Homo sapiens: one gene and its partner. The protein of the gene in region 1 binds, or shares a complex with, the protein of each later gene. Each region holds a gene or a part of one and is shown in the gene's direction. Other genes may lie near its edges.

What was found. The genes of interacting proteins can lie anywhere in the genome.
Region 2: HBS1L (region 1) and PELO share a complex: the UniProt entries of both Homo sapiens proteins name them as parts of the pelota-HBS1L complex.

What each region holds. Positions count from the first base shown.
Region 1 is NC_000006.12:135,052,872-135,056,620, reverse strand, and holds the start of HBS1L (HBS1-like protein), read left to right. Parts: upstream 1-1,798; 5' UTR 1,799-1,929; coding exon 1,930-1,972; intron 1,973-3,749. UniProt on the Homo sapiens protein: GTPase component of the Pelota-HBS1L complex, a complex that recognizes stalled ribosomes and triggers the No-Go Decay (NGD) pathway.
Region 2 is NC_000005.10:52,797,891-52,801,639, forward strand, and holds part of PELO (protein pelota homolog), read left to right. Parts: intron 1-1,914; exon of another isoform or gene 1,915-1,994; 5' UTR 1,995-2,504; coding exon 2,505-3,230; intron 3,231-3,518; coding exon 3,519-3,749. UniProt on the Homo sapiens protein: Component of the Pelota-HBS1L complex, a complex that recognizes stalled ribosomes and triggers the No-Go Decay (NGD) pathway.

The sequences.
Region 1 (3,749 bases):
GAGTGCAGTGGCACAATCTTAGCTCACTGCAACCTCTGCCTCCCGGGTTCAAGCGATTCTCCTGCCTCAGCCTCCCGAGTAGCTAGGACTATAGGCACGCGCCACCATGCCTAGCTAATTTTTGTATTTTTAGTAGACAGGGAGTTTCACCATGTTGGCCAGAATGGTCTTGATCTCTTGACCTCATGATCCGCCTGCTTCAGCCTCCCAAAGTGTTGGGATCACAGGAGTCAGCCACCGCGCCCGGCCAATAACACAATATTTTTAAGCACCTACTATGATCTGTGATAAATCCTCTTATACGGATACATTATTCACAGCTCGCGAGTTAGTGTCTCTATCTCCTTTTTACAAAGAAACAGGCTGCAAAATAAAAATTACCTAAGGGTGTAAAATAATAAAAACACTTAAGCCATGTAACATTAGCAACTATCTCTATTTTTCTGTAAACTTTTATTTTGGAGCCACATTAAACAACTATTTTTGTAGTCAAACACATTCAAATGCATGAATAAATTACGTTCCAAGCCACTTACAAATATAAACTAAATTTGGATTACTCTTATTTCTTTCTATTGTGCATAGCAAAAAGCTGAGGAAGCTTTTAATTATCTCTAGAACTCAACATTTGCCTTTGATGTGAAGTATCATCATTTCAAAAACACAAGCTAAAACTGAAGTGGTGTTCAGTATAATGAGGTTGGTTTCTTATATAGCATTATTAACTTTATGTTCTGAGAAATGAGGACATTTAATAGCAGGTTATAGATTCATGCATCAACAACATTCAGCATTACCACCTAAGGCCAGTGCTATGTCTAAAAAGCTATATTTAATACTCGCAATGTTACACACAATTATGTCTTCAATGAATGTTCAGTGAATCCTTCTTTATGATGCTGATAAATATCGTCTATATAGCTAAAATCGTTTACATAGCTAAGGGCAAATCGCTGTTTACTAGGGATAGTAATGCCGAACGGAGTGAATACATGAAGTCGTAAATTATATGAATGCAGGGTGACCTAATATAGCCAGGGTCTCAATTTAATAATATATACCCGTTTAAAAATAGCCTTATTTCCTTCTCTAAAGCTTGGACTCTTTTTTTTTTTGAGATAAGGTCTCACTCACTTTGTCGCCCGGGCTGGAATGGAGAGGCCCGATCTCAGCTCACTGCAGCCTCGACCGCCTGGGCTCAGGGGATCCTCCCACCTCAGCCTCTTCAGTAGCTGGGACTACAGGTCTGCACCACAGGGCCGGCTAGTGTTTGTATTTTTTGTAGAGACGGAGCCTCGCTATGTTGCTCAGGCTGGTCTCGAACACCTGAGTTCAAGCGATCCGCCCTCCTAGGCTTCCCAAAGTGCTGGGATTACAGGAAGGAGCCACCGCACCGGCCTGGGCTAAATCTGATTCCAAGTTTACACAAGTTTGTTGAATGCCCACTGTGTGCTTAATGAAAGATCAAAGTTTGATAAAACAAGGTCCCTGCTCTTACTGAGCGCATAGCTTTCTCAGATTATCAGGAACCAAATTTGGAAAATAATCCAGAACGCTGGCGTAGGTAGCTCAAGGTTCCCCGCTTGCAACATTTAGTCCAAACCAGTCAATTCTAGGCGGCGGATTTCCCCATCCCCCTCCGTCGCCCAACCTTTGGGTGGGGCCACTCCCAAACGCTCCCTCCCCTCGTCCCGCCATGCACAGCAGTGCGCATGCGCCCTCAGGGAGGCGGACAGTGACCCTGAGGCATTGCCGTCGCGCGGTGCACAGCTAAGACGTCGCGCTTGCGCAGGCGCTCGGCGCAGAGGCCTGCGGGAAGCCAAGATGGCGCATAGGGGTTCTCCAGGCTGCAGTTGGCGCCTTATCAGTATCTAAGCGGAGTGTTTTGGAAGGAGTTAAGGGGCTGTGGCAAACGCCCTCTCCGCCGTCATGGCCCGGCATCGGAATGTTCGAGGCTATAACTACGATGAAGGTAGGTGGCAGGGTCATGCCGGGACGTTCTTTTCCCGGCTACAGCTGGGATCCTAGCCCGTTGGCATCCACTTCAATCTGTGAGTTTCTCGTCAGTGTTGCCCTGTCGGGATTGGGAGAGCCCCAGTTGGGGAATATAACAGGCCTTCTAGTGCTTTCAAATGCCGTCGTTTTTAAGTCATGATTTCTGCCCTCTGGGGTTGATTTTATTTGGGGAGGGGGAGGTGCTGCATAGCGTCATATGGGTAGGATATTGGTGAGGTTGAGATCCGGTGATATTTAGGCACGTAAGCATTATCACCTCTTCCATTGTTTCCTCCCATGTTGGGCACTAACGTGCCTGCTTCTAGCTCCTCTCTCCCAGATCCCCTTTGAGAAATGTCCATGAAACGTTGCTTATTTGTAAAACACAGATTGACTTAATACATTCAACGGACGTGTACCTGTGTTAGATTTACATGGTAAACCTTTTGTGTATGTCCATACATACCTAGTGCAGAATCAGTTTGCGCTAATTTATTTTTCAACGAATTTCAAAGTGGAAACTTAGGAGACGGTAGAAAAGACACATGTTAAAAAGGCCCAAAGAATGAGTCGATCAGATGGATCTTGAAGTTTATACTTAGTTCTTGGCTGGTAATGCTTGATATAAATGTATTTTGAAATGTAAATAAACGGCAGTACTAGAGGAAAGAGTGTATAGGAAAGGACTTTTTGATATTAAAAAATGAAATAAAAATGTCTGTATGAATGTTCTGTAGGAGTTAACAGGAGTTAGAATTATTTTTAGGAGGAGCACATCCCTCTTCATGCAGTAGATAACTATAGGCATCACCAAGCATCACATAAACTAAAAATATAAACAAAAATGAACTAATGCAGGAGAAGAATAAAGAACTATGCTTTACGAAGTGCAGAACATGTAGTGCTTAATATGTTGGTGATTGTCATTGGCACCCCAGTAGATTATTATAGAACATCAGTATGCTTTAACTAGAGTGAGGGCAGCTAACACCCTGTTCTCCATTTGGAACCTGTGACCTCAGTCCGTCTAGAACATGTGAATTTTCTGGTGGTTACTTTAGAATGGAGGCCCTTTTAAATAAATATTGCAGTGGATGGTATTGCATGTGGACCATTGTCACCTAAGAAATGACTTTAGATTGAGAGAGATTTTTGCAAATATAAAGTACATGAATAGGCCTATTTATTATTCATTCATTTCTTTAATAGTTGTTTATCATTTCCTCAACCACCATTAAGTTAGTGCTTAGAGTACTGTTCTAAGCTTTGAGGACTGAAAGTAAGATATTTGAGGGTGGTCTAAAAGGAGAAGATTATACGAGTTACAGATTATTAGAGTATGAAAAATGCTACAAAAGGTACTGAGAAAACGCTATGGGAGGGATACACAGATGAGAACACTTAATTCAGAATGGATTGGGGGGAATTTAAGCAGGATTTCTACGTTAAGGAATGCTTCATGGAGGAGAGGTGGTTGGCCTCAGGGAGCACCTTGGCTTCTTGAGGTTAGGTTGTCATGTTGTCATGCTTCTTTGAAACAATTGGTGACATCATAACCAAGCTGTTCCTGTAACATTAAGGAGGTTCATCCCCTTTTCTTGTTTATAAAAGTTGTACTCATTAAGGTCCAGTTTATTTCTCTTCTTCCCAGTTAGGCTTTCTCTTGAATTCTCAGAATAATAATTTAAAAATTCTGTTAAGAAATATAACCTCATTAGAGAGAGTTTGTGTTCTAAAACCTACTGGTTCCGCTA
Region 2 (3,749 bases), on another chromosome or scaffold:
GTTAAGATCCCACTGTGTGCTTACCACTGTGATTCTGTGGCTTTTAATCTTTGGCAGACTATGGGAAAGATAAATTGTACTTAGAAAGATGATCAAGGAGCACTTCAAAGCCCCAGTTCAAAATTATCTCCTCATTCTCTCTCTCTTTCTCTCTCACAAATACACACACAAGCACACTTTCACCCTACCAATTAGGAATTTTAAGTTAACAAGATACTTTTTTTAAAATACAGTGTCCTTTGGATAGGCAAATCACCTTCACACTTGAGTGTGATTAGTTCTTTGCTTAGTGAAAAGTTGCTGGGTTCTCCTGGAATTGGAAGAAGGCAATGTGAATTAGGAACTTCTTGAGGGTACTCAGTATGATAGGAAGGTGGGAAGAAGGAGGAAGTAAGGGGAGACATAGAGAGCGAGAAACAAAGAGAAAAGAGGCCACAAATATTAATAAGTAGTGGTTCTTATTTGGACTTTCCCCTTGGAGGGGACCTTTCCGTCCCCTGATAATCTCTTAGGAAGATAATGACACTTAAGTTTAAATTGTGAAGCCTGTCAGTTGAGAAAAATGTTGAGACAAGTCTCAATCATTTTAGGACGTTTATTTGCCAAAATTAAGGACGTGCGCGGGGAAGACAGGTCTATGCCTTTCTGGGAAGATGATTTTGAGGGCTCCAAATTTAAAGGGGAAAGGGTGGGATACTGAGAAATACAGTTTTCATGTGAGAGGGTAGCAGGGGGAAAATAGTCATTCATGCCTCTGTCTGGCTTAGTCAATCTGAATCTGCATTTTTACGTAAGATAACATAGACAAATGGGGCAGGGGAACAATCAGATATGCATTTGTGTCAGGAGGGCAGAGGGGTGACTGTACCTGAAAACAGAAGCTATCTATTTACATTGCCATGGTAAATTTTCATAGAAACACTTTATGGTAAAGATCTTGGCGCTCACTGAGAATTTCCTTGTGGGCAAAATATGAGCGAGGTGTGTAGCTTTTCATCTGGTAGCCATCTCATTTAAAAACCAAGAGGCAAGGCAGTTTTGCGTGACCCAGTTCCCAGCTTAACTTTTCCCTTTGGCTTAATGAGTTTGGGGATCCGAGATTTATTTTCCTTCCACACGCCTATGCCAAACTCAGATTCCTTCCTTTCATCCCTGTTTCATCTGTTCAGGCTGGTTAGTTCCCCTTTCCAATCCACACAGAGAAAGACAGAAAAGACAGTGAGAAGCTATGTGTGCAGGACTTCTCTGCCCTCCACTCCATCTAAGCTCTCAAGAAACTTTTAGATTCTTTTGTTTTTTCTATTCATCGGTCTCTTAAAGAGGCAATCCCACTTCTCCATTTCCACTTCCTAATAAAGAATGCTAAGTAACTTAAGGATTTTCTTTAAATTATGTAGCTATTCAATCAGGGTCAGTCCTAGTTAATAGTTTTTCCCCACTTCCCATAGCCTCGGCTTTTAGCTTAGCTTTGGCAGTGAAGATCTGGCCCTAAGCTCTTGCGACCCAACCCCCAACCTAAACATTTCACAGGCTACTGGGCTGCGGAAAGCTGAGGCTGCCAACTTTGGAGCCTAGGATTCCCAGGACATCAGGTCAAGCAACTGAGAGGTCCACCCAGGGGTAAATTCCACACATAGTTTCTTCTCTCTTGGGACCAGCGCTTTAACATCTGGGTGAATCAGATCGTGCAGACACGGTAACTAGGCGCAGAAAACAGCTGGACACGTTGCTGGGAGCCCAGACAGAACGTGACCAGTAGTTCTCAGAAACCGCTTCTAAATACCAGCTCCAACAGGCTTGTAGCGTCCGAGTGCGGATAAGGCAAGAGCAAAAACGAGCATAGTTTGGGCCGTTGGGGCCAAATCTGCACTTCTGAGAGCTACTTTTACTGCTAAGCTTTGAAATTGGATTTACCCAGAGGGAAGCGTTGCAGTGGCAGCCGCAGGCAGGTAAAACTAGTATTTGCACTCACACACTCCCCGGATTCTTCACAGACAGGGATGGAAGAGAAAACTTAGGAAGTTGAAGTTTGGCATTAAAATAAAGGACTCGCCACCACTCTGTGCACCTTCTTGAGGGAGTTCATTCGTCCGGAGCGCCTCACAGCTTAGTGCGCCTGCGCACGCGCGAACTGCGGCCCCGCCTCTCCTTTGGGGACGGGAGACGTGCGTCGGGTCGCGGGACGGGGGCTGCGCATGCGCCTTCATTTCGTCAGCCCGCTGTTGCGTGCTGCCAGCGGGAACTGTGTAGGGGTAGATTTTCGCTGCAGTGTTCCCCGAGCCTGTTAGACGCAGCGCGCCGGGAGACTGAGAGAGGAAAGGATAGAGGAAGTGCTGCCCTAGGCTGCATGAGTCGAAGCAAGCGTGTTTCCTTCCCGCCAGGCAAGTGCCCTTAGAAACCGGGCCCCGCCCCCTTCCTGGCCTGCATTCCCATCCCCTCTCCCGGGGCGGAGGTGAGGACCTCCTTGGTTCCTTTGGTTCTGTCAGTGAGCCCCTTCCTTGGCCATGAAGCTCGTGAGGAAGAACATCGAGAAGGACAATGCGGGCCAGGTGACCCTGGTCCCCGAGGAGCCTGAGGACATGTGGCACACTTACAACCTCGTGCAGGTGGGCGACAGCCTGCGCGCCTCCACCATCCGCAAGGTACAGACAGAGTCCTCCACGGGCAGCGTGGGCAGCAACCGGGTCCGCACTACCCTCACTCTCTGCGTGGAGGCCATCGACTTCGACTCTCAAGCCTGCCAGCTGCGGGTTAAGGGGACCAACATCCAAGAGAATGAGTATGTCAAGATGGGGGCTTACCACACCATCGAGCTGGAGCCCAACCGCCAGTTCACCCTGGCCAAGAAGCAGTGGGATAGTGTGGTACTGGAGCGCATCGAGCAGGCCTGTGACCCAGCCTGGAGCGCTGATGTGGCGGCTGTGGTCATGCAGGAAGGCCTCGCCCATATCTGCTTAGTCACTCCCAGCATGACCCTCACTCGGGCCAAGGTGGAGGTGAACATCCCTAGGAAAAGGAAAGGCAATTGCTCTCAGCATGACCGGGCCTTGGAGCGGTTCTATGAACAGGTGGTCCAGGCTATCCAGCGCCACATACACTTTGATGTTGTAAAGTGCATCCTGGTGGCCAGCCCAGGATTTGTGAGGGAGCAGTTCTGCGACTACCTGTTTCAACAAGCAGTGAAGACCGACAACAAACTGCTCCTGGAAAACCGGTCCAAATTTCTTCAGGTAAAACAATCTTACCCAGGGATAATTAAGAATGGGCAGAGGGATTGGTATAAACTACTCCTAAAGTTTTAGAACTGGGAAAAATAAGAAGAGAAAGTCTTTACTTAGCTGGGATTTTCATGAGATAATGAAATAAAAAGAGAATGTTAAATGTCTAGCAAATTTATGGAGTAAACTTCGCTGAAACATATGAAGCCTTACTAGCGCTTTTGGCTTTAAGCCTTTGTGAGCTGATTAATGGGTGTTCTAGGAGATTATTTTGCCTAACTTTTGTAATTGTGATTCTAGGTACATGCCTCCTCCGGACACAAGTACTCCCTGAAAGAGGCCCTTTGTGACCCTACTGTGGCTAGCCGCCTTTCAGACACTAAAGCTGCTGGGGAAGTCAAAGCCTTGGATGACTTCTATAAAATGTTACAGCATGAACCGGATCGAGCTTTCTATGGACTCAAGCAGGTGGAGAAGGCCAATGAAGCCATGGCAATTGACACATTGCTCATCAGCGATGAGCTCTTCAGG